4 linked regions of the Homo sapiens genome follow. The protein of the gene in region 3 binds, or shares a complex with, the protein of the main gene of each other region. Each region holds a gene or a part of one and is shown on either strand. Other genes may lie near its edges. The genes, in order: CDK2AP2, MTA1, HDAC1 and MTA3.

Evidence for each region.
Region 1: HDAC1 (region 3) and CDK2AP2 share a complex: the UniProt entries of both Homo sapiens proteins name them as parts of the nucleosome remodeling and deacetylase (NuRD) repressor complex.
Region 2: the proteins of HDAC1 (region 3) and MTA1 are in contact, whole or in part, in a cryo-EM structure (PDB 7AO8), measured with the Homo sapiens proteins. Residues at the interface, in NP_004955.2 of Homo sapiens: Lys10, Tyr14, Gly20, Asn21, Tyr23, Gln26, Lys31, His33, Arg36, His39, Asn40, Leu43, Asn44, Tyr48, Arg49, Lys50, Met51, Glu52, Ile53, Tyr54, Arg55, Pro56, His57, Glu63, Lys66, Tyr67, Asp104, Val118, Ala119, Val122; in NP_004680.2 of Homo sapiens: Asn132, Glu135, Ala162, Asp163, Gly165, Glu166, Ile167, Arg168, Val169, Asn171, Arg172, Tyr173, Gln174, Ala175, Asp176, Ile177, Thr178, Asp179, Leu180, Leu181, Glu186, Asp187, Arg189, Gln191, Ser192, Arg193, Leu194, Glu195, Thr196, Gln197.
Region 4: HDAC1 (region 3) and MTA3 share a complex: the UniProt entries of both Homo sapiens proteins name them as parts of the nucleosome remodeling and deacetylase (NuRD) repressor complex.

The regions. Positions count from the first base shown.
Region 1 is NC_000011.10:67,505,969-67,512,886, forward strand, and holds CDK2AP2 (cyclin-dependent kinase 2-associated protein 2), read right to left. Parts: upstream 2,195-6,918; 5' UTR 2,115-2,194; coding exon 2,033-2,114; exon of another isoform or gene 1,722-2,032; coding exon 1,624-1,721; intron 1,530-1,623; coding exon 1,397-1,529; intron 1,045-1,396; coding exon 977-1,044; 3' UTR 529-976; downstream 1-528. UniProt on the Homo sapiens protein: Acts as a component of the histone deacetylase NuRD complex which participates in the remodeling of chromatin.
Region 2 is NC_000014.9:105,464,800-105,471,233, reverse strand, and holds the end of MTA1 (metastasis-associated protein MTA1), read right to left. Parts: coding exon 6,371-6,434; intron 6,141-6,370; coding exon 6,051-6,140; intron 4,809-6,050; coding exon 4,656-4,808; intron 4,528-4,655; coding exon 4,492-4,527; intron 2,897-4,491; coding exon of another isoform or gene 2,885-2,896; intron 1,768-2,884; coding exon 1,736-1,767; intron 1,394-1,735; coding exon 1,242-1,393; intron 1,170-1,241; coding exon 1,019-1,169; 3' UTR 505-1,018; downstream 1-504. UniProt on the Homo sapiens protein: Transcriptional coregulator which can act as both a transcriptional corepressor and coactivator. Acts as a component of the histone deacetylase NuRD complex which participates in the remodeling of chromatin.
Region 3 is NC_000001.11:32,330,055-32,334,129, reverse strand, and holds the end of HDAC1 (histone deacetylase 1), read right to left. Parts: intron 3,553-4,075; coding exon 3,444-3,552; intron 3,363-3,443; coding exon 3,222-3,362; intron 2,657-3,221; coding exon 2,548-2,656; intron 2,455-2,547; coding exon 2,324-2,454; intron 2,041-2,323; coding exon 1,888-2,040; intron 1,430-1,887; coding exon 1,381-1,429; intron 1,114-1,380; coding exon 1,086-1,113; 3' UTR 504-1,085; downstream 1-503. UniProt on the Homo sapiens protein: Histone deacetylase that catalyzes the deacetylation of lysine residues on the N-terminal part of the core histones (H2A, H2B, H3 and H4).
Region 4 is NC_000002.12:42,564,194-42,571,640, forward strand, and holds the start of MTA3 (metastasis-associated protein MTA3), read left to right. Parts: upstream 1-4,438; 5' UTR 4,439-4,552; coding exon 4,553-4,580; intron 4,581-6,243; coding exon 6,244-6,311; intron 6,312-7,447. UniProt on the Homo sapiens protein: Acts as a component of the histone deacetylase NuRD complex which participates in the remodeling of chromatin.

The sequences.
Region 1 (6,918 bases), on a different chromosome or scaffold from region 3:
CCAAGGCTGGGTTCATGGGATCCCACCCAGCCTGCTACAAGGTGCTGGGGCAGTGACGGCAGCACCCCGCCAGCCCCTCCCCTTGACACTGAGGCCAAGTGCTGGAAGCAGCAGTGCCCTTTCTCTCTGAGAAGTCAGAGACCTTCAGGGCTGATTCAGAGGCTGGGGTGTTGTCAGGGCATTAGGGCGTGTGAGGGAGTGGCTTACGTGAACTGGCATTTCCATGCTGCCAGGCATCACCGCCAATCCAGAGGAAGCGCCCTCCAGGCCCAGGCTGCCCACAGCGCCAAGGGCTGTGGAAGCAGCCAGGCCCTGTGCTGCCCCCTGGTGGCACCACAGGAAGGCCCAGGGCTCTCAGCGCCACGGCTGGGGCGGAGAGGGCCCAGGTCCCACCAAAGGCTGATGGCCTACAGAGGCAAGTCAAACCTCATTTAATCACACCCTCCCCATCCATAGTCTCCTCTTCCCCTGTCTCTGCCTGGCCCACCCAGGCTTAGCTGAAGAACCAGACCCAGAAAGGCTCAGAGCTGAGAGCACAACTCCAAATCATCTTTTATTAATATAAAAAGGGCATATTTAGCAAAAGACACACAGATAAAAGAGTCACTATGGCTCAGGACACAAGGCAGGGAGGTGCCAGGCCTGTGCCCCTGCTGGGGGAGAAGGAGGCTCGGGACAAAGTGGGAGAAGTGCTGGGAAGGGCTGAGCGGTAGGGGCCACAAAAGTTCCGGTGGGCAACACTGTCGGCAGGTCATGGGTGGGACTCATGGGGACCTCGCTGCTAACTCTTGTTGTGGGGGGGTGTCCTTAGTGCTGCCACCTGGAGGGCCACTCCTTGGTTCCTGGAGGGGACCCACCAAGGGACACAGGACAGGAAGCCCAGGATGGTTAGTGCAACTCGGGATGAAGGCCAGGGAGAAGCGGGTGCTCTGCAGTGGCCGGATAGGTCCAGACGCTGAGGCCGAGGCGCTTCCTGTTACGTGCGGGCGTTCCGCTCTGTCTCTGCCAGGCACTCTCTGACTAGGGCCCGGGCATGGATGATACCTGGGGGTGGGGTGGGGTCTCAGCAACCCTCCACAGCCCCACCCACTGCCCTCCAGAGGAGGACCCCTGCCTCCCCACTCCCTTTCCACTTTCGGCAAAAGAAATTCAAATCTAATGACGGCTAGATGAAATTAGAGGTTTGGTTAATCCTCAAGGTTGCCCTGTTGAAATACAAATTCCCATGCTCTTCCCTGGAAATGGACTCAATTTCAATTCGATTCAAAACACCTCTCTGGTAGTAATACTGGACATCCTCTAGGCTTGGCTCAGGTGGCCTCCAGATGTCCTTCCTTCCCTCATGAAGGATAGTCCAGTGTCGGTTTCCTGAGCAGGGCGGCCTGGCCTCACTTACCTCTCTTCAGGCGCTCCATGGCGCTCTTGCTGCCAGCATAGGTAGGCCGGATCTCTTTGCCCATCTCCTCTATGACTGACAGCAGGTCCGTGTAGGTGCTCTGGGAGCCCTGGGCGCCGGGTGGCTTCATCGCCTATGTCAAAAGAGAACAGGGCAGTGAGCTCAGGCACCTGGCGGGGAGGGGGACTCCAGTCCGCATCCATAAGCAAGGCTTTGGCCCCACTCACCTGCACGTAGCCCATGGAAGGCGGTCCAAAGTCGTTAAACAGCGGTCTGAAAGGAGCGCCGGCTCCTGGCACTGAGCCCGACGGCGACGGGACGCTTCCTGCAGCAACAGGCGCGAGTAAGAGGTCAGCGCGGGGCAGGGACGCCGCCTCCCAGCTTTTCCAAGCCCAGGACCGGGTTCGCCCGATTCCCTCCAAAGGATGCTTCATTCCATGCTGATCAACTTCAGGGACAAATCCCTCCCACTGCGCTCCACCTACAAGCCCTTACGTGACCACGCCCACTTCACAGGCCAGCAAACTGAGGCTCAGCGAGGGTAGGCGGCAGGCCCAGTATTGCAGAACTCAGGCCGTCTTCTCTTCGAGACCTCGACCGCCCGGCAGGCGAGCAGGGGTGGAGCTGGATCCTCACCTGTAGGGACCGGGGTGCCCGGCCCAGGGGTGCTGGAGCCAGGGGTGCTGCTGGGAGCAGGGGCGATGGGTTTGTAGGACATCCCCAACTCCTGGGCGCGGCGGACGCCAGCCGGCCGCTCCTCGGGGGTTGGCTGCGGGGCCGCTCAGCCGCGCTCTGATTGGCAAGCGGGCTGCACGCCCCTGGTAAATAGAGGTCTGGCCGGAAGGGCGAGCGGGCACGAATGCTCCCTCACTCCCGATTGGTGCGCGAAGATGTCACTCGAGCCTCCTTATTGGCCGAGACCTGCCCCAGCAGGTCGCAACCGCCGCCGATTGGCCTCCGCCTTCCGGACCTCGCACCTGTCTGCTCCGGATTGGGCGGTGGCCACCGCCCTCCGCAATTGGCGAGTTCGCGGCCCGGGCCGGCGCGCTCTCAATCCGATTAGTCCCCAGGCCCTAGAGGCGGGGCCTTGGGAACCGGGACCCGGGGCTGGGCTGCCGGTTCGCGCCGAGGGGTCTTCCCGGGCGCGGGCGCTACCCTCGCGCCTCACTCGCGCTGCTTCAGACGTCTGCTCCGCTCTGCCCAGTTTCGGCCCAGCAGGGGTTGCTGTCGCAGCTGCCGTCGCCGCTGCCACCGGTGCCTTGCGCGCTTCTCCGCTCTGGGGGCCGAAGGACGCAGGGCTTTGACGTCCCGAGCCCTGCGCCCCACCCCGTGCGCTTTTACGTCACCTTTCACCGGTTCAACACCCGCTCCCCGATCTGCGCATGCGCCCGCCCGAGGCCTGCGTTTGTTCCCATGGCAACAGGCCCCTCATGGATGCCGCCACGTACCGTTCTTCCTGCGGCTTGGCTCGTCCTCAGGTCTAAGGGCGACCTCAAAGACCCCTTTACCCGCACCCCCAAGGCCCCGCGCTGCTGCCTAAGTTAGTGACAATGGCCGTAGGGCAAACCTTCGGGATTACTTGCGTGCCGGGCCCCGGACCAAACTGGTCAAGAGCACCGACTGGAGCCAACCGTCTGGGTTCAAATCTCAGCACCACCCCCACTAGCGATTTCCCCCAGGCAAGTTTCTCACCTCAGTATGCCTCAGTTTCCCCATCCGTAAAATGGGGAAAATGACGATCTCATTGGGTTGTGTGGATTAAATGAATAGTCATAAAGTGCTTGTTGTTTCATTCTCCGCCTTCCTGTCCCACAGGGCCCCCATACCTTTCCACTCCACCACTCAGACCCCTCCCCTCAAGTCTCACTCCCCACAGAGTTAGACCTCAGACCCTCCTCCACTCCCTAACCCTTTCTCCCAGGCTCCTTCTCCAAACTCAAACTTCTCTGGCCTTGTGTATCTTCATGCTCCCAGCTTTGTAGATCTTCATCTCTAGGACAGTCATTCATTCATTCATTCATTCATTCATCCAACAAGCATGTTCTGGCTGAGCGCGGTGGCTCACGCCTGTAATCCCAGCACTTTGGGAGGCCGAGGCGGGCGGATCACGAGGTCAGGAGTTCGAGACTAGCCTGGCCAACATGGTGAAACCCCCATCTCTACTAAAAATACAAAAATTAGCGGTGTGGTGGCGGGCGCCTGTAATCCCAGCTACTTGGGAGGCTGAGGCAGGAGAATCGTTTGAACAGAGGTTGCAGTGAGCCGAGATCGTGCCATTGCACTCCAGCCTGAGCGACAGGGCAAGACTCGGTCTCAAACCCCCCCCCCAAAAAAAACACACAAAAACCATGTTCTGACTCCCTCCTCCGTCCCATGCCTTGTGCTGAACGCTGAGGTTACAGAAATGAACAGGCCATGGCCTCTGTACTCAAGGAGGCCTTATACTCTGAGACAGGGAAGCAACGTCTTCTTTACATTGCAGTAAGTCAATGGCCACAAGGGATAACGGGACAGGATGCATTGGAACTTAGAGGAAGGGCCTGCCGGGTGGCATCACAGAAATCTCTACAGACTAGGTGGCATTTGAGTAGGTGGGGGTGGAAGCGGAGACCGAGGGGACACTCCAGGTAGAGGGACTGTCATGTGCAAAATCTTGGGAAATGGGAGAGCACAACATGTGTTTGAGAACCAGCCTTTTTTTTTTTTCCTTTTTTTTTTCTGCTGGAGAGTTCACTGGGAAGTGGAGGTGGAGCCGTGGAAATAACCACAGGGTCAGGAAGGGGACCTTAGGTGACGTGGATGTAAGGAAGCTGAGTTGACCACGGAGTCCAGTGCTTCCCTAACTCCAGCCATTAGGAAAACTCCATCAGTTTTGCCATCTATTTAACATTTCCTTGTAATTAATTCACTTTTACAAAATCTTAAATAGAAAGGAAAAGGCATAATGTCCATTTAATCATGTGCTCAGTATTTATAGTTTTCTAATACATATTCAGACTCAACTACTGTTAAAAAGAAAAGGTGTTGATCAGGTCACCCAAGGTCTTCTGCTCCTACTGGTGGCACTGAGGGTGCGCTTCAGAGAAATCTACTGTGGATAGTAGGTGAAGAGGAGCCACTGAGGGTTATACCTCCTTTGGAAACCACCAAGCCCCAACTCCTTCTGTTACAGGAAAGGGGTCTGGATCCATATCCCACCAGAGGGTTCTTGGATCTTGCACAAGAAATAATTTAGGGTGAGTCCACAGAGTAAAGTGAAAGCAAGTTTATTAAGAAAGTAAAGGAATAAAAGAATGGCTACGGACAGAGCAGCCCCAAGGGCTACTGGTTGCTCATTTTTCTGGTTATTTCTTGATGATATGCTAATCAAGGGGTGGATTATTCATGCCTCCCCTTTTTAGACCATATAGGGTAACTGCCTGACATTGCCATGGCATCAGTTTACAGATGGGAGTGTAGCAGTGAGGACGACCAGAGGTCACTCTCATCACCATCTTGGTTTTGGTGGGTTTTAGCTGGCCTCTTTACTGTAACCTGTTTTATCAGCACGGTATTTATGACCTGTGTCTTGTGCTGACCTTCGATCTCATCCTGTGACTTAGAATGCCTTAACCATCTGGGAATGCAGCCCAGTAGGTCTCAGCCTCATTTTACCCAGCTCCTATTCAAGATGGAGTTGCTCTGGTTCAAACACCTCTGACACTTCCACACCTTAGACCTTCCTACTTTCTCCACTGCCCATTCTATTAGTTACTGCAGCCTTGACCTCCTGGGCTCAAACAATCCTCTTGCCTCAGCCTCTCAAAGTGCTGGGATTACAGGCAATAGCCACTGGCCTAATTCCACAAACAAAATAAAATACCATAGACTGGGTGGCTTAAACAACTAAAATTTATTTTCTCATGGTTCTGGAGGCTGCAAGTTTGAGATCAGGATGCTAGCACGGTTGGTTTCTGGTGAGGGCTCCCTTCCTGGCTTGTAAATAGCCACCTTCTGGCCACGTCTTCATATGTGCTCCTTGGTGCAGAGAGAAAGAACAAGCTTTCTGGTGTCTCTTCTTATAAGTACGTTAATCCTGGAAGCTGGGCAGGGAGGTGCAAGGCTGTAATCTCAGCTACTTGGGAGCTCACATGGAAGACTTGATTGAGCCCAGAAGTTTGAGTCCAGCCTGGGCAACACAGTGAGACCCGACATCTAAAAAACAAAAGAAGGGCCAGGCTCGGTGGCTCACTCCTGTAATCCCAGCACACTGGGAAGCTGAGGCGGGAGTATTGCTTCAGCCCAGGAGTTCAAGACCAGCCTGGGCAACATAGTGAGACCCTGTCTCTACAAAAAGTAGCCTGGCATGGTGGCATGTGCCTTTAGTCCCAGCTACTTGGGAGGCTGAGGTGGGAGGATTGCTTGAGCCCAGGAGGTTGAGGCTGCAGTGAGCCGTGATCATGCAACTGCACTCCAGCCTGGGCAACAGAGCAAGACCCTGTCTTAAAAAAATAAAAAAGTAAAAAAACAAAAAAGGACACTAGTCCTATCAAATCAGAGCCCTACCCTTATGGCCTCATTTAACCTTAATTACTTCCTTAGCGGTCCATCTCCAAACACAGCCACACTGGGAGTTAGGCTTCAGCATATGAATTTTGGAGAGACACAAACATTTAGTCCATAACACCCATGTTTGGGGGAAGGGGTTTGCTTGGGAGGTGCCTGAGGGGTTGAACCTTGAATTCATTCATTTATATTTATTTATTTATTTTTGAGACAGGGTCTTACCCTGTCACCCAGGCTTGAGCGCAGTGGTGCAAACATGGCTCACTGCAGTCTTGACCTCCTGGGCTCAAGCAATCCTCCTACCTCAGCCTCCCAAAGTGCTGGGATTACAGGCAGGAGCCACTGGCTTGGCCCTACAGCAGGTTCAGATGTCCCTCCTCCTTGGAGCAGTGGGCTATGGCAGGAGGGGCACAGAGTTCCGTGAGGGAGGTGGGTGGTGACAACTGTGGCCTATCTTAGAGAGAGGACTCTGTCTACCTCGGGGGAAGATAGCACAGCTTCCTTGGTACAACGCTTTAGGGGCTCCCCTCTGGTCTCAGCCCTCAGACCCACAGCTCATCCCCTGGATTTTGGAGCCTTTAACCATTGCTAAATTCAGCCCATAGATGGGCTCTCGTTGGCTTGCCCAGTGAATTAAAACTTCATCTTAGTGAGCAGCATTGTATTTCTGTACAATCCTTTCAACTTTGCGCGGTGGCTCACGCATGTAATCCTAGCACTTTGGGAGGCTGAGGCGGGCAGATCACGAGATCAGGAGATCGAGACCATCCTGGCTAACATGGTGAAACCCTGTCTCTACTAAAAATACAAAAATATTAGCCAGGCATGGTGACACGTGCCCATAGTCCCAGCTACTTGGGAGGCTGAGGCAGGAGAATCTCTTGAATCTGGGAGGCGGAGCTTGCAGTGAGCTGAGATTGTGCCATTGCACTCCAGCCTGGGTGACACAGTGAGACTCTGTCTCAAAAAAAAAAAAA
Region 2 (6,434 bases), on a different chromosome or scaffold from region 3:
GCTTGGGGGCCAGAGCTCTGGGCAGAAACCCTCAGGCGGCTGGGGCCAGGCTCTACATGGCCAGGAGGTTGGGCCTCTGGCTGGAGCACTCCAAGGCCTCGCTGGCCCAGCTGCACTGGCTGCCCTGGTGGGAAGCCACAGGGTCTTCGGCAGGGCCAGCTCTGCCTGCCGGGAGGCAGTCCCCGGCCCACCGCTGCCGCAGACACAGACGCACAGACGGTTTCAGCACAGCTCTGCTGGGGAAGGGGGTTGGGCCCTGCAACCGCTTGCTGCCCCCTGGGGAGGGCAGAGGGCACCGCGCCAGGCCCCAGCAGGGGAAGGTCTGTGGGCAGGTGGGAGAGCAACAGAGCCCAGAGGCTGGGGTGGCTGTCCTGGCTGAGGTGGCCTCCAGGGGCCTCCAGCTCCACGGCAGAGCCACAGCCTAGGGCCGCCCGATGGGGGTGGGGGGCCCAGGGCCTGAGTCAGGGAGAGGGACTGGGAACAAAAGACACAGGGAAGGACCGGTTGGTTTTTTTCCTTTTTATAAGATTTTTTTTCTTTGTTTTTGTTTAATATGAAAATTACTTGAAAAGACAAGGGCCAACCCCGCCAGGCAGCTCGGCCGGCCGCGGCCGCACGATCCTAACATTCCAGGTGTAAGTTACAGAGCTCAAGTTCATCTACAAAAAAAGTAATAAAAATAAAATTTAAAATGGCACCTTCAACAGAACACAACAAAACCTTAGGGCCCGGCCTCCGGGCAAAAGGCCCCGCAGCACAGGGGCACGGGGTGGCCCCTCATCTCCGCTCCAGCCAAAAAGTAAACACAAAGCTAAAAACGACAACTCCTCGGCATTCTCGGAATAAGTTAGCCGCGCTTCTTCCTCTCCTCCCCCAGTGTCCGCCAAGGAGCGCGTTTCTCTGCAGGTGAGGGCGGGAGGTGGGGCACTACCAAACTGAGGGGCGGGCGGCGGGCTGGCTGGGAAGGGGCCGTGTGGGCGGGCGAGGGGCGGGGGGCGGCCGCAGGTGGGGGCGGCCCCTAGTCCTCGATGACGATGGGCTCGTCGTTGACGGGCGCAGGTGGCGGTGGCCGCGGCGGCAGGGCCTGGCTCTGGCGCAGGGCGATGGGCTTGTAGGGCCGGCGGGCAGCACGCTTGGTTTCCGAGGATGAGAGCAGCTTGCGGATCTTCCTGTGGGCAGAGGTGGTGGTGAGGGCCGGGACGCTGTGCGGAGCCCTCCCGCCTGCCCTGGGAAGGCCCCACCTGGTCTCCTCTGTGGCCATGTAGAACACGTCATCCGGGGCGTCGATCCAGTTCATCCGCCGCCGCTTGACTGGGGGCAGGGAGCCCCCCCGGATCAGGCGCACTTTGGTGGGGTAGGACTTCCCGTTGAGCAGGAGGTTCCGGCTTGGTCCCTGCAGAGGGGGTGCACTTCCTGGGCAGCCAGCCAAGGGCCAGCTCCACCTCAACCTGCAGGGCTCCCGCTGGGAGGTGCTGTGCCTGGCCAACCCCCCACCACCCCAGTGAGTTACACGGACCCCCAGCCTGGCCCAGGGCAGCCCTGAGGGCTGGTCGGCCGCACACCGCTGGGCCTGGCACAGGGGCCATGGCCCCCACATGCTGCAGCCCCTCTGGTCTTGCCAGGCCTCCTGGAAGCTTCCACGTGGCACCTGGCAGGGCTGGCCAGGCCTCTTCCCAACACCCCAGAGAGCTCATGGGTGAGCGCACCGTACCCCATCATGGGTTGTTCCTCTTACCATGTGCCTGGCCTGTCCGTGGTTTGCCAGACCTGATGAGAAATGGAGGAGAGAAATGAGGCCCCGAGAGAGCGCGTCCTGCACTCCCACCGCCCACCACGGCCTCAGCCACCTTGGGACAATGGGCCGGGGCCATCTGCCAACCAAGCCACAGCCCACACCCAGGATGGGCCTGGGGGACGTGGGGCCTCGCATCCCCGGGTCCTGGGCCGCCTGGTGGCCCCACAGCTCTCTGGCCAGCAAGAGACACATTGGCTTGGGCTCCAGGCAGGAGGCCAGGAGCCTTGGACCCGACAGTCACCTCCCTGCACAGGGGCCGGGGCTGTCCACCCACTTGCCTGCCGTGCCGAGACAAGCAAAGCCTCGCAAGGCTGTCAGTCCAGCAGCGGCACAAGCCCCTCTGCAGGGCAGCCACGCTGTGGCCGGCACTGCCCCACCAGGAGGCCGGGCTTTTTCCTAAGGCTCTGAGAGAGCCGCCAGCCCCGGCCAGAAACAGGTCACCACCCACTGCCCTGGCTGGGCCCCAGCCACCCTGGCATGTGCTTGGGGATGGGGTGCCAGAGGCCTCTGACTTCCCACAGTGCAGGGTGAGGAGCCCAAGGGGCACTGCGGGAGTTGGGCCAAGAAGCGGGGTCCATGCTCCTGGTCACCCCCAGCTGGGCCCAGGACCGCCGCTGCCCTCCCCCACTCACTGCCCTTCCCCACTGCCCTGTGTGTAGGTGTGGGCGTGTGCATGTGGGAGCTGGTCCCAGGATGGCTCGGCTCCCAGCAGGACCAGCTCAGAGAGGACAGGATGTCATACTCAACTCAGTCAGGTGCCAGGGCCCAGGGGCATCGGAGCAACCTGCCAGCTCCAGAAACGCTGCTTAGCTGAGGCCCATCCCTTAAGGAACAGAAGCAGCCTGTCCAGCCCCTCCCCACCTGCAGTTGCCTCCTAACTTGGGGCACTCCCCTGGGGGCCAACTGGGGCCCTGGAGCCCTGGGTCAGCCTTTCCCTGCCAGTTTGCTTAGCTCTGCCGGGCAGGGTCAGGTGGGGGCCCAGGTGCCTGATCTGCGGCGCTCCCAAGCAGGAACAGCCATACCTCAGGGCACCTGCCACAAGCCAAGGCCCAGCGCCCAGGGCTGGCCAGTAGCACAAAAACTACTTACCCAGGTAAGTGCCTACCAGAGCGGTGGACAGCAGAGGGAAGAAACACATGCTTTAGGTTAGTGAGCCACACGCAGCCATCTGCAGGCCCCGCAGGTGGGGACAGCGCAACAGGCTGCACGGGCAAATGGCCGGGTTAGAGCGCTGGGGCCCCGTGCTGTGGGCAGGCAGGGCCCTCACTCGAGCTCAGCTCATGCCTACCCAGGCTGGACAGAGACCCCACCTCGTGTGCGCCAGTGCCCCCGGGAGCCGTCTTCACCCAGCTGGCCCCTCTCCAGCGCCCAGGTCCTGGCCGCTACACGTCAGGACAGGCGCTTCCTCTGTGGCTGACCCCTCTGAGCCCAGGGCCCCGCCCAGCCAGGCGGCAAGGGGTGATGCTCCCTCACAAGCACTGCATGGCTGGGACTCACGTGTGAGGTGTGGAAAATTCAGTGGGAACAAATAAGCTTTTATGTAACTTGCTGGTTAACCGCTTTTTACAAAACAAAACAAAAAGCTCGAAGATGCCTGCTGACAAGGACTCCCTCCTGTTTCTACCAGCTCTTATGGGGCTGTTCCTGGGACGCCCTGCCATTAGGAACAGACAAGTAAAGCCAGCCCAGAGTGGGCTGGCCCTGGGCCCAGGACTAGGCAATGGGGGCAGCCCCAATACCAGATGGCTGGGAGGGTGCCCCAGGAAAGGAGGGCTGGGGCTGGGGCCGAGACACAGACACCGCCAAGGGATGTCGGGAGGAAGCTGCAAGGACAGGCCAGGGGTGCGTGTCCAGACAGGTGGAGATGGGGGGCCCGGCACCCGATCTCAGGCCCACCCTGCGCTGCAGCCGGCGTGCTGACCCCACAGGACGTGCCTGCCAGGACACCCAGCAGCCTCGAGAGAATGCCCCAAGGGGACAGGGTTGGCTGGGCTGGGCAGCCACTACCCATATCCACCTCCAGGTCGCCAAACCGGCCCTGCTGCCCTGGCCAGCACCGTCAGTGAAAGCCGCCTGGCGAAGGGGCTCCAGGCACATCCACACTGGCAGGCCCAGCACTTGCACACCCGGGCCCCACACACCTGGCCTCCTCATGCTAGGCTTGGTCCTATCTGCTCTTCCCCAAGGGGCCTGGGGTCCCGCAGCCCCTGCTCCAAGCAACCGGCACAGAGCACCTGAGCCAGTCCTCCGACAGAAGGCACCCATGTGTACAAGCTCAGTTGCCCACGGCCCACACAGACACCCCCGACCACCCTCCCCACTGTCCCGCCTGGCAGGCGCACGGAAGGATTGCAGGCACAGCACGGGCGGCCCCACGAGCTGAGGCTGGCAGCATGCGGGCAGTCACAGCGCGATGGCAGACAGCGCAGGCAGGGGCGCCAGGGCCACACGTGCCAGGACAGTCCACTGACAGGAGGCGGGGCCAGGGGGCCGAGGGCCAGATGCCTGGGCTCGGGGGGTCTTCACCAAGGGACCAGTGATGTCGGGAGGAATGTGGGGAACTGGGCTGTGGCCTGGCTCACGTGGACTGCCCCAAGCATGGGCCCTGGGCCGCCCGCCGCGGGGACACAGAGCAGCACAGCACAGGCATCACGGGCGGGGCCGGCGCAGCGCCCGCCCGCGGCTCCAGGCCTTACCCCTACTGGGCATCAAGAGGCGCTTCTTCATGTTGCCTGGCAGCGCCGGGGTGGGAGAGAGGGAGAGAAGACAGCGTCAGCACGCACGGCGGGTGCCCGGGCGGGGACGGGCCGGACTCACCGGGCGGGGAGGGCCACACTCACCGGGCGGGGGGGCCACTCACCGTCCACCCCGTTGTGCTGCTCGTAGCTGCGCTTGCCCAGGATGGTGGGGGAGCCGTTGTTGATGACGGGGGCCACCTTGGCGGGCGTCAGGCTGCTGAGCACGCTGGACACGCTTTTCACGGGGTCAGGCTTGGGGGGGCGGGGGTGGGTCTCTGCCGGGAATGACACAGGCAGAACGAGTTGCCTCTGCCCAGCAGGGGAGGGGCAGGCAGGCCCAGGCTCCAGCCCTCATGGTTCCGGGATACCCCCAGGAACTAAGCCCCATGCGGCCCCCACCCGAGGCCCCATCCTGACTGGGCTGGAAGTGGGGAGGTCACCACAGAACCAGAAGCCCAGAAGCCCTCGGCAAGGCGTGTGCCCGGGCCAGTCCCGCACCCCAGGGCTTCCAGAGAGCAGGGAGACCACCTGGCGGGGGCCAGGCCCCTCAGCCCCGGGACAACAGGATCCATACACAGGCCCGTGAGCACAGCACGCCTATTAAACAGCCCCCACGTCCAGGCCCCCGGAGCTGCTGGTGGAGGGCTGGCTGCTCGTCAGACAGCGAACCAACCATCCAGCCAGCCTGGCCAGGGACACAGCTGCTGAGGACCAGCCCTGACACCAGCCACCTCTTCCCACAGGACAGGGGCCACAACCCCAAACAGGGAGCAATGCCAAAGCCACTTGAATCTCAGAGCACACTTGGCTCATGACTCTGGAATGTCCTTCTCAGGACAGTCACCCTGTGTCGGGAGGGCAGATGCACAAGCCCACTCGAGCCCAGCAAATGGAGGAGGCCCCCCACCGCCACCACAAATGTCTGGCCCAGCCACCAAGCTGCTTCCAGCTGGGCCAGGGTAGCCGGCTGAGGTTCTCGGGTGTCCTCAGATGCTCAAAGGCAAAGGAACCCCCTGCCGCCTGAGGCTGCTCCTCCCCCTGCCGAGGGCGTGCAGAGGCCTGAGTGCTGCCCCTGTGGAGTGGGCGTGGCTCAGGAAGTATACTCCCTGCAGGCAGCAGGTACGACGCTGCCTTAATGGTATTACAGGCAGGGGTGTGCACCACCTAAACCCCAGACCCTCAGGCCCCAGGGACGATCAGAACACAGGGAACAGGGTAGCGAGACTGGCAGGGAAGCCCCCGGGTGTGCCTTGAGGAGGCTGGCCCCGCAGAAGACAGGGCGGCCGCTACTCCGCACTGGGCCCCATCACGACCCCAGGAGCAGGGAGCAGCCTGGGTCCCAGTGGGTCTGCCTGAGCCTGGCACGGTGCAGAGTACCCCAAAAGGACAGTTCCAGGCCCTGGGGGGCTGTCCAGGAGCTCCCAGCTAGAGAAGGCTGGGAGCACCAGTGCATGAGCTTGGGTGAGAAGCTGCCTGCAGGCAGCATTGGGAGCCCCCCAGCACGCCTGGCTGCTCACCAAGATACCGAAGCACGGCTTCCAGCGGCTTGCGTACCGCCTGCTTCAGCACCAGCGGGCTCTGGGAGGCTTCGGGCAGCCGCGCCGTGCCTGCGGGGTACCACACGGTGTGAGGGGTGGGGCACCCCCAGGGGAGCACGGGACCCTGCCTGCGCCTTGACCTGGGAGCCCTCACTGGGCTCGGCCATGTCAGCACCGAGGAGGACGTGGGGCTCCCTGAGATCAGAACTCCCAGTGGGGCTACAGGCTGGGCCCCAAGGTTGCTGCTCTCTCCCCACCACCCGCAGGAACAGAGTAAGCGGGGCGTTGGGGTGACTCACACTCGGCCTTGATGGCCGCGCTGTTGATGGGCAGGTAGGGGTGCCGCGCAGCGTGCCACGGGCG
Region 3 (4,075 bases):
AGGACACTGCCCCGTCTAGGTTTTTATAAATGTCTTACTCAAGTTCAAACCTCCAGCCTGTGAATCAACTGTGTCTCTTTTTTGACTTGGTAAGCAAGTATTAGGCTTTGGGGTGGGGGGAGGTCTGTAATGTGAAACAACTTCTTGTCTTTTTTTCTCCCACTGTTGTAAATAACTTTTAATGGCCAAACCCCAGATTTGTACTTTTTTTTTTTTTCTAACTGCTAAAACCATTCTCTTCCACCTGGTTTTACTGTAACATTTGGAAAAGGAATAAATGTCGTCCCTTTAGTGGTGCTTTAATGAGTGGTCTTCTGGGGGTAGGGTGAGAAGATTGGTGGAAAGTAGTTTACCTCAAACCTCAAGGGAGGAGTTAAGGCAGGCAGGTAAGTTTATGGGGTTTTCTTGTTCAGGGGGTTGCCCCAATACTCATGGACACCAGAACGGCAGGGAAGTAGAGTTGAAACCAACCCAGGGACACATAGGAAACAAGCTCAGGAGGATATAGAAATGTACCATTTTATTACAAAGAGGCTCACAAAAATGAAAATAGTATCTCAAAAAGGAAACTAGACTAGCAACCTCCACCTGCAGAATTAGGAGAAGACAGACAGAGGGCAGGCAGTGTTTCTTGGCTCACTTGAGGCCAGTGGGAAGGTACGAAAACAGAACCAATCTAAAAATGGCTGATGTTACTTTAGGAGCCTGAAAAAAACAGGAGATCCTTGAAGACCCAGCCACCCCTTCTAGAATGTTCAATAAGGGCACCTTTCCAAAGCTACTAAGCAGGCACTTGGCATTTCAGGAGTTTGTCTTATGGTTGCATAAAAGTATCCCTTTCACCCAGACCTGGCACCCTTTATGGTTCAAAGTTAAGAACGGGAAGAATGGGTGGCAAGGTGGCTCCTGGAAGAGCTCACCCAGCACAGCTGCCCTGAGCTCGGGGCCTTGGTTTCTGTCCCTGGGGATATTTATATTTAATAAATTTTTATATAAATACACAGAGAAATAGAAAATATAAAATCTGAGGGGTTGGGGAAGAAACGTGAGGGACTCAGCAGGAAGCCAGAGCTGGAGAGGTCCATTCAGGCCAACTTGACCTCCTCCTTGACCCTGTGGAGAGAGCAGAGACTGGCATGAGATGACCCAGCCCAGAGCCTCAGGGCAAAAGTGCAGACAGTGACTTCCACAGGATCCTAGGTGACTACTGGGGGCTGGGGCTCCTAGCTCTGCCTAGAACTGCAGAGCTGGACAGACTGGTCCCTGAAAGAGGCCTTTGTAAGCTGGACCAGCTGTCCCTGTGCCTTTCCTCAGAGTGGTGGGACAAAGGGGCTGGTGCTCCAATGCCAGGGAGATGGCCACAGGCAGCTCCTTCCTCACCCTTTGGCTTCTGGCTTCTCCTCCTTGGTTTTCTCCTCTTCGGTGACTTCTAGAACACAAGAGTACAGGGATGGCCAAGGGCAGCACCTCTGGGAAGACCCATGAGGTCTTCATTTACCCTGAGACCCCTTCCCCAACACTACAGCTCACTGGACATAAAGAGAGAAAAGCCCATCCCTGGTCCTCCCAGTGAGCCCTGTTGAGAACAGGTTGGACTGGTTTCCCAGCCTGCTACAGCCAGAACCTGGTGGGCGGAGGCAGCCCCCTGGGAAACTGGGGTGCAGTGCTGGGAAAAGGGCTGGGGTGGTATGTGAGAGCCGTGCTCAGGCAGTAGAGGTTCATTGTTTTGTGGGCTCTGCCACTTCTGGGAGCCACTGAAAGGCTCAAGGAACTGAGGAAGAGCCCCACAGGAGCTGGCAGGGCCTGAGTCACTCCCTCCTCCCACTGCCCTACATAGATTCATCCTCTCAGGCTCGAGACCCAAGTCCCAGCTGAACCCAAACCCACCTTTCTTCTCCTCTGGGTCTTTCTCTTTTTCATCCTCTGTTTTGACTCTCTTGGCTTTTTTGAAGTTGGAAGAGTTCTTGCGGCCCCCCTCTCCCTCCTCTTCAGAATCGGAGAACTCTTCCTCACAGGCAATTCGTTTGTCAGAGGAGCAGACTGGGAGGGAGTGGGAAGCATGGGTGAGAGGGCAGGCGGGTGCTGATTTAGCTCAGCATCTATGCCCAGTGCTTCCCTGCGTGTCCTCCAAGAGACACCAAGGGAAAGGGAACCAGAAGAGGGAGGAACTCGGGCTCCCTAACCTGTTCCTACAGGCACTGGAACTCGAAAACAGATTTCTCTACAGGTGGGGAGCTTGGAGGGAGTGTGCAGCCAGGAATGGTGGTGGAAGTGTGAGCTGCCTATTGAATGGAAGGCATAGGGCTCTAGGTCTGGGTCTCACTCGAGATGCGCTTGTCAGGGTCGTCTTCGTCCTCATCGCCACTCTCCTCAGGGATGGCGTCCTCAGGAATCGCCTGCATTTGGACCCCAGGTGCGTGCGGCAGCATTCTAAGGTTCTCAAACAGTCGCTGTCTGTGGCCAATGGGAGAGAGTAGCAGGGCTCTGGTCAGGGACAAACCAAAGTCAGGAATGTTCAACCAAGGGGTGGCTGGAGGATATACTCACTTGATCTTCTCCAGGTACTCATTCGTGTTCTGGTTAGTCATATTGGAAGGACTGATGTGGAGCTTGAAATCTGGTCCAAAGTATTCAAAGTAGTCATTGTATGGAAGCTCTGATTGGGGCAGGAGAGAAGACCGTCAAGAGACCTGGCCACCGCACCCTAACCATTTGCACGTAAGCACCCTAAAGCATTTGTAGGTTTCTCTGGGCCTATTTATCCAAACAGAGGAGAATGCCTCCAAGACACTGTGAGACACGGGTACCTATGGGATTTCCATCTTTTTAACATCACTCTCCTATGTCTGTACCAGTGGTGTATATGTCGCTAGGAGAAGGCCCATGTCCCTGGTTTAGGACACTTGAGGCCATGCTCATTATGAGCGCTCCCTTCACTCGCTACTCCAGTTACTCTACAGAGTAGAAATTCCAAAGCTGTAAATTACCAATGAGAACTTTGTCCAGACCAAAAGCAGGAGGGAGAGGGGAGAGAGCTAAAAAGGACTAGGGAAAAAGTGATGGTTATGGTCTGCTGATCACAAGAGGACAGGCAGGAGACTCAGTGACTAGTATCAGAAGAGGAGCGGTCATATGACCAACGGGGAAGGGGTTATAAACTTAAGGACAGATGAGCTCCAGCTCCCACCCAGCCCAGCCGAACCTGGCCCTGCAGCTATTACCATTAGGGATCTCCGTATCCAGGGCCACAGCTGTCTCATATGTCCAGCACCGGGCAACGTTACGAATGGTGTAACCACCGCCTCCCAGCATCAGCATAGGCAGGTTAAAGCTCTTGACAAATTCCACACACTTGGCGTGTCCTTTGGTGGGAGAAGGGGTGCTGAGTTACAGGAGCACCAAGCAGGACCCCGCCCACCCATCCTTGTGCTACCTGGTCTCACCTTTGATAGTTAGATTGAAGCAACCTAACCGATCCCCAGATAGGGAGTCTGAGCCACACTGTAAGACCACCGCACTAGGCTGGAACATCTCCATTACTTTGGACATGACCTAAAATGATACATCCTGGTCACCACCAACCTCAAGAAAGCAATACGAGGTTTGGAGTGGAAAGGCTGGGTGCAACACTTTCCCACCCACTCCTACCTTTCCACTCTCCCTCATGCTATGTGGGAGAGAAAAGGGAGTGCTAGGCTGGAGCCCTTGCTTGCCCACTTGGGATTTCAATTTTCCAATTTAAAAAGTTCTCTAAGACCCTTCTAACACTCTAGTAACACTGAACCTAGAATGGCCTCCCTCTCAACTCCCTAAGTCTCTTCTGTTGCCCAAGCTCTAGTGCCACTTCCTCCAGGAAGCCTTCCTGACCTTTAGCTGCATCTACTCTACTCATTCGGTCTTACAGACTTGAAGCCTTACATTATGAGCAAGCACTTTTAGTTTATCTTATTCTCACAAGCAGAGTCTAACGTTACTGAGACCGAGACCACAACTCCCACTTCTGTAGCCCTTATTAAATACTAGGCACATAGTGGGCAGTCAGTGTTTGCTGAATGACTACCTGACCTTATTAGGT
Region 4 (7,447 bases), on a different chromosome or scaffold from region 3:
GCTCATTTCTGTCCCCATTATGACTTAGTCCCTTTTCTACTACCTAAAGGTAATGTTACTAGAGAAGGAACCTTCTTGTGGAAGCAGCCAAATGGCTGAGCTAGCTCCCCTGTGAGGGCATGAGGGAACTATGGGATCCGAAAACACATACTGCCCGAAACCAAGACCTTTAGGGATTTCATGTTTTTTGCACAGGAGATCTATGGAAGAACCATCTCTATGACTAGAGAAGCTACAGAACTCCCAATTCTGTTTCCTTTCTCCTTGGGGCTCTTCTGCTTTGATTCTTGCCATCATATGCCTACACTTCTCTTGGGTTATGTTCCTCTGCCTTTAAAACCCAGGCCCTCCTTAGAATATGAGACAGACTGGCCTTTTCTGAAAGAATTTTACTAAATAAGAGAAGAAGTTAATGAAAGGAAAAAGAAGAGAGAAATAAATCATGGAAAACACGAACCAACAAGATAAAGTCCCTTTTCCAAAGCCTGGCCTCTGGTTTCAGATTAATTACATTTTAGACCTCCAGGCTCCTGTCCTGGGTTCAGTATGACAGAACTCCCAGACTGTGGCCAGCACCAATCTCTTTTAATTTATTTTTTTTGAGATGAAGTCTCGTTCTGTTGCCCAGACTGGAACACAGTGGTGTGATCTTGGCTCACTGCAATCTCTGCCTCCTGGGTTCAAGCGATTCTTCTGCCTCAGCCTCCTGAGTAGCTGGGACTACAGGCGCTTGCCACCATGCCCGGCTAATTTTTTGTATTTTTAGTAGAGATGGGTTTTCACCATATTGACCAGGCTGGTCTCGAACTCCTGACCTCATGATCCGCCGGCCTCGGCCTCCCAAAGTGCTGGGATTACAGGTGTGAGCCACCGCGCTCAGCCAACCGGCACCAATCTCTTTTTATTTTTTCGCACATATAAAAACTCCATCCCTACGTTGAGACAAAAACCAACTCTCCATTTTACCTATTCACCTAAAGCTTTCTTTTTTTTCTTTTGTTTATTTATTTTGAGACAGAGTCTTGCTCTATTACCCAGGCTAGAGTGCAGGGGCATAAACATGGCTCACAGCCTCTACCTCCTGGGCTCAAGCGATTTGCCTGCCTCAGTCTCTTCCAGAGTAGCCAGGACCATAGGTGCGCACCAACTGGCTAACTTTTTTTTTTTTTTTTTGGTAGAGGTGGGGTCTTGCCATGTTGCCTAGGCTCAAATGATCCTCCTGCCTTGGCCTCCCAAAATGCTGGGATTACAGGCGTGAGCCACCATGCCTAGCCACCTATAGCTTTCTTGCTGCATCCACTTCTCTTCAACTAAATGGTAAAGAACTACCTTGTATGTGGTTCTTTAATTGCAACAACTGTGCAAGGAAATTTCATCCATGGAAGGGCTGGATTTGCCCTGGGATTTCTGGCATGGCCTGAGAGACACTTCTTCCTTAGTGATGAGAATAACTGGAATAGAGAGAAGGGACCTAACGCATATGAAGCGCCCAACAAGTGCCAAACACCTTCTATATTTAAATTTTACCAGGCTGGGCATGGTGGCTCATGCCTGTAATCCCAGCATTTTGGGAGGCTGGGCAGGCAGATCACTTGAGGTCAGGAGTTCCAGACCAGTGTGGCCAACATGGTGAAACCCTGTCTCTACTAAAAATACAAAAATTAGCCAGACGTGGTGATGGGCACCTGTAGTCCCAGCTGCTTGGGAGGCTGAGGCAGGAGAATTGCTTGAGCCTCGGAGGTGGAGCTTGCAGTGAGCCGAATCCGAATCGTGCCATTGCACTCCAGCCTGGGCAGCGAGAGCGAAACTCCGTCTCAAAAAAAATTTTTTTTTCTACCATAAGCCTTTGAGGTAGGTATCAACCAGTAGTCATATTTTGTAACCCCTCTTGAGGCTCAGAGGGGTTAAGTAACTTGCTCAAGGTCTTTATAGTTAAACTGCCAAACTAGGAGTGAAGTTAGGGCTGGTTGATGACAAGTTTGTGGTCTAAACCATGTAGCTAAGAAGGGAGAGGCGCCTTTGCTTTTTTAAAGGTGCAGGCTTTCCACCCGTCTTTGGTTGAAAGGTTTCTTTCAATCTACAAACATTTGCTGAACTCCTTTATGTGTGAACCTCTCTGGAATTAGGACATATAAAAGTTTCACAAAGTCCTTGTATTCAGCTCTTCTGATTCTTTGAGTCCACGATTTGTTGGTATTTATTCTTCAGATACTGAGCATCTACTGTGTCAGCTCAGAAATGTAGAGGACATTGGCCTAGGAGCTGGACATGGAAGAGACTAATATATAGAATCTAGAGCAAAAAACGGTTCTAAGGCCTGCCACCATCATTACCTCCTGCTAGTCCCCTTCAAGTCTTTGAGGCCTTTCATGGGGGGCTTCTGGATGAGGCTGTTCCTAAGGGGACATAGGGAGGAGTTTTCTCGGCATCTTTCACCATTTATTGTGGTTAGCACAGTCATCATAAACACCTGGCAAGAGCACTAAGCTTGGGAAATGAGACAGGCACACAATGAATTAACAAAAACAGGGAAAGATTTCGAAGGAGGAGAAATTGCTTATGAAAAATTAATGGGAAAACATCCTAAAGCTTGTGATCCACTTCTTTGCACTTTATGGTTTCTAGGTGGCTTTTGTACTTGGAGAAACACTGTGGTTCAGAACATTCTAGGCCAGAGGAAAGGGCTGATTCATAATCCCAAAATTGCTGCCAGTTTACTGTGTGATTCCAGGTGAATTATTCAACCCTATTTATGTGTCAGCTCAGAAATGGAGTGATGTCAGTTTTGTCAGAATGTTTTTGGTGGGATCTCTGGTAAATGTTGAATGACAGCTATGCAATGTGTGGAACAGAACACTTTTGCTTTCTTCTTTGGGTCAGAATTTGACACATGGCTCAGAATTTGACACACAGCAGAGAACCCTTGGGAATCTGTGGTTTTCTGGGGTTAAAAAGAAAGCAAGAGACACCTGTTATTTGCATGGTGCTCTGTGTTCCCTGGTTTACAAAGCATTTTCAGATATCATCGCAACTGATCCTTACCACACCTGTGAAGGGGGAACTCACGTCCCCATTTTATAGACGAGGAAACAGGTCATAGAGTCAATGTAATTCAATAGTGCTTTATTTTTTATTTTTATATTTTGCCTCAGCTATGCACAGTTTTTTCATCTCAATACTTTGTGATAAGTGACCATCACAAATGTCATCACCAAACCACCAAAACACAACCTTCTTTTCTGGGGGCACCTCTTAGCCCCGCACAGACCTTAAACCCAGAGTCGACAGCACACAGCTGTGTATCACCACACATTCCAAACAAGCCACCACACCAAGAAATCTTCTTCGTGTTTATTATGCAGCAATGTCTGGGAGTACTTTGGAATGGACTGGCTTCTCTAAAGAAAGTTATTTGTGTTCATTTGGGGGATCGCCAGCTAAGATTCAACGTTGTTTTTTTTTTTTTGTATCTGTGAGAGTAGGAAGGCCGTGAAAACAGAGGTTGTTTAGAGAATTGGCCTGGGACAATAACCATTTAGAAGCTTTAGGCACGTAACCAGTTAAGTGTCCATCGACATGAAACTGATTGAATACAATCTCCTCTGTTTGGGGGTGGTGGTGATTGTGAACTGTAGGGCCCTGTTCCCCCATGGACAAAGGAAGCCCCTCACTCCTAAAGGTCCCTTTTCCCAGCAGAACAGGCCCTGCATATACAGTGCCCGTCTAGAGCCAGGGCCTCCATCTGGGTGTTGGACAGTTGGTTCTGCTCAGCCCAGTTTTGGGGTAAACGATGACGCAGTTAGGGTGGCCTAGGAAGGGAGTTTTTCTACCTCTGTCCCCAGCTGGGTCTCTGGCGAGGCGGGAAGCACCCGGAATCTTCCTGGCCCTAGAGCCTGCAGGCTCCAGGCCGGCCCCTTGAATCTCACCGCGAGGAAGGCACCCTGCTGCCTGCACTTATTTGCATCCAAGAGTTTGCATTGAGACTGGCGCTTGCCTACTAGGGCAGCCACAGGGGGGTTCCCCAGGGACAGAGGTAGGGAAGGAGGACCTGTCTTGGGGTGGACAGGTGACGGGGTACCCTGGGTGGGGGAAGAGGTGCTGGGGAGAGGCTAAGCCCCAGCCCCCACTCTAATTCTCTAACAGCCCCTGGTCCGCATTTGAGTGCAGGCCTCTGCCTCAGCCAGGACCCTGACCCCAGGGCCCTCCACTTCCAGCAAGGCCCCCCACCCTCCCTCCCACTCCCACTCCCTTTCCCCTCCCCCTCCCCCCCAATTCCCGCTGGCCCCGCAGCGCTCCAGCCTCCCCGGGCCTCCCCCGGCCCGGCCCACTCGGCCTTGCTAGCCTGGCGCTGGGGGCGGGCACCAGCCCCCACCCCTCGGCGTACCATCCCCTTTACTTCCCCCACCCCCTGTCCCCTCCCTTCCCTCCCTTCCCCCCCGTGGCGAGGCAGCAGCGACGGCGGCGGCGGCAGCGGCGGTCGCGGCTGAGGCTGAGGAGGAGGCGGCGGCGGCGGGCGGGGCTCGGCTCGGGCTCCGCGGGCGGGCGGGCGGACATGGCGGCCAACATGTACCGGGTCGGAGGTAGGCAGGCTCGGCCCGACCCGGCCCGTGTGGGAGCGGGTTCCGGGAGCGGGGGGCCGGGGCGAGTGCACGCCAACTGCCGGGAGCCAAGGGCGCCGGGGCTGAGGTCGCAGTGGGCTGGGGCGCCGGGGCCCGCAGAGGGGCCGGGACTCCCCACCCCCACCCATCCCTTCCCCTCCCCCCACGCGGGCTCGCGAGGGCCCGGGGCCACCTTCACCCTCGCACCCCGCCCAGTGTTTAGGGCCAGGCCTCTACTTGGGGGTACGAATTACCAGACACCCCCCTCCACGAAACCCTCATCGGGGTAGGGCCCGTCGAGCCCCCTGAGAAGGTGGCCTTCTTGCGTGGCTTCTAGGCGCTGGAGAGGATGAGGGGACATCCCCTCTCCTGCTTCTTCCCCACTCAGTGGGAGCCTGGGGTGGGGGTGGGGGTGGGGGCGGTGGGGGCCCAGCCAGGGGCCCAGCTGGACGGGCCTGTTTGCGTGCCGGGGCCCTGCACCTCCCCTTCCTCGGCCCCCCTCCTTTTCGTTTCTGGTCCAGTCCCCCACGAATGGGGCTTCGTGGGAGCTGGGAACCTCAGCCGGAGGTGGGGAGTTGAGCTCTGCCTGGACGTTTGCTCTGCTGCCTGCCTCCTTCCCAGTCTTCTGCGGAAGAGAGAAATAAGGTCAAACAAACTTTCTCCCTACTCACGACGCCCTCCTCCCTCTTTCCTGGTAAAATAATAATTCAGATAAGTGGCGTGTTTGTATGAGAGACTGGCTCTTCCTTCTCTGCTCATTAGCCGAGCTTCTGATGGATGGTGGTGGGAATGGCCTGGCTAAATGAGGCCACTTTGCAGAAGAGAGCGGCGAAAGAGCCACTAAGATAGACAATAACAATGCAGCTGCCTTTCGGATAAACACACAGTGGGAAGTTTCCAGCAAGCCTATTAGATGAGAGGAAAAGCCACACTTGAAAAATTTTATCCTTTTAGTTGAAAGCCTGCAGCAATTTCTTAATCACAAGACATTAAATGGATCTGGATTAAATATGGTAAAAGGGTAAAAAAGATGCTGATATCACCCCCAGAACACTTTGCCTCTTAGAAGTGATCCCCCGGCCCCCTTTTTTCCTCATCTTCCCAGGTAAAACTGTGGAAAAGTTTGTCAGCGTTCTTCCTCTTAACCTGTTCTGCTCATCTGATTTTTTTTTTTTTTTTTAAGTAGTGATTGAAATGTAGGTTGGACTGTGAAGCCTTTCTCCCTGCTCTGAATGTGTCTTAGGTCAATAGTTTTATGTGAGAAGCAGCCTGCAGGGCAAATTGTATTGGAGGAAAAAGATGTGGAAGTAGTTATAGTACAGAGGACACATGTTTAGCGTGCCCTGACTACACAGTGATAAGAGGTGTCTTTTTTGTTTATTATTAAAGAAATGACGTATTGGGACAGAAGTCTAGGAGAAACTGATAAAACATTAATTGAAATGAAAATGCCAAGAAAATAAAGGTCTGTGAATAGTAGGCACGTGAGAGGATATATTAAGGCTGCATTATTATGTTTGCTTTTACCAGTGAATGAATTATGAGCTTAATTTCAAACGTGAAATGCCTAACATAAAAAGTCTTGGATTGACAAATCTGAACTTTCTGTTAAAAAGATTAAGTTCTGTACTTCCTTTAATTACAGATTATGTCTACTTTGAGAATTCCTCCAGCAACCCATACCTAATAAGAAGGATAGAAGAACTCAACAAGGTATACACTGAGTGTTCTTAATTTTAATATTAAAAATATTTATTTTCCCTTGATGGGTAATTGGGTAAAGGGTGGCCTGGTGTGGGGGCTCATGCCTGCAATCCCAGTAAATTGGGAGGCCTGGCGAGTGGATAGCTTGAGCCCAGGAGTTGGAGACCAGCCTGTGCAACATAGTGAGACCCTATCTCTTATTTTTTTTTAATTAATATAAAAAGTAAAAATATGGCTGGGTGCGGTGGCTCATGCCTGTAATCTCAGCACTCTGGGAGGCTGAGGCGGGCGGATCACCTGAGGTCGGGAGTTCGAGACCAGCCTGACCAACATGGAGAAACCCCGTCTGTACTAAAAATACAAAAAAAATAGTCGGGCATGGTGGCACATGCCTGTAATCCCAGCTACTCGAGAGGCTGAGGAAGGAGAATCGCTTGAACCCGGGAGGCGGAGGTTGCGGTGAGCCAAGATTGTGCAATTGCACCCTAGCCTGGGCAATGAGATAAACTCCGTCTCAAAAAAAAATAAAAATAAAAAAATAAAAATAAGCTGGGTAAAGGGGCATAAGAGATGATTTTACTTTCAGTCCCAGACTCTTTGAAAGATGAGATTTTAGGCTGGGCATGGCGGCTCACCCCTGTAATCCCAGCAATTTGGGAGGCCAAGGAGGGGGTGGATCACTTGAGGTCAGGAGTTCAAGACCAGCCTGGCCAACATGGTGAAACCCTGTTTCTACTAAAAAAGTACAAAAAAATTAGCTAGGCATGGTGGCATGCACCTGTAATCCCAGCTACTCAGGAGGCTGAGGCAGGAGAATCCAGGTGGAGGTTGCAGTGAGCTGAGATCACGCCATTGCACTCTAGCCTGGGTGACAGAGCAAAACACTGTCTCAAAAAAAAAAAAAAAAAAAAAAAAGTTGAGATTTTAGAGAGTTATGCACGATTCTGAATTCCGAATATTCTTTTGCTTTTTTGTTACTGAATATTTAAAAGTGTGCAGATATTTTCAAATTGCTTAGAGCCTCTGAAAGAGCAGTTCACTTATGTAACTCAGACCCTTTTTATGTTTAGAGTCATAATGTGTATTTTTCCCTTTTTAGTGAATTAATATTTTCCTCTTCCAGGTTTAGAAGGAGGAAGCTAGGG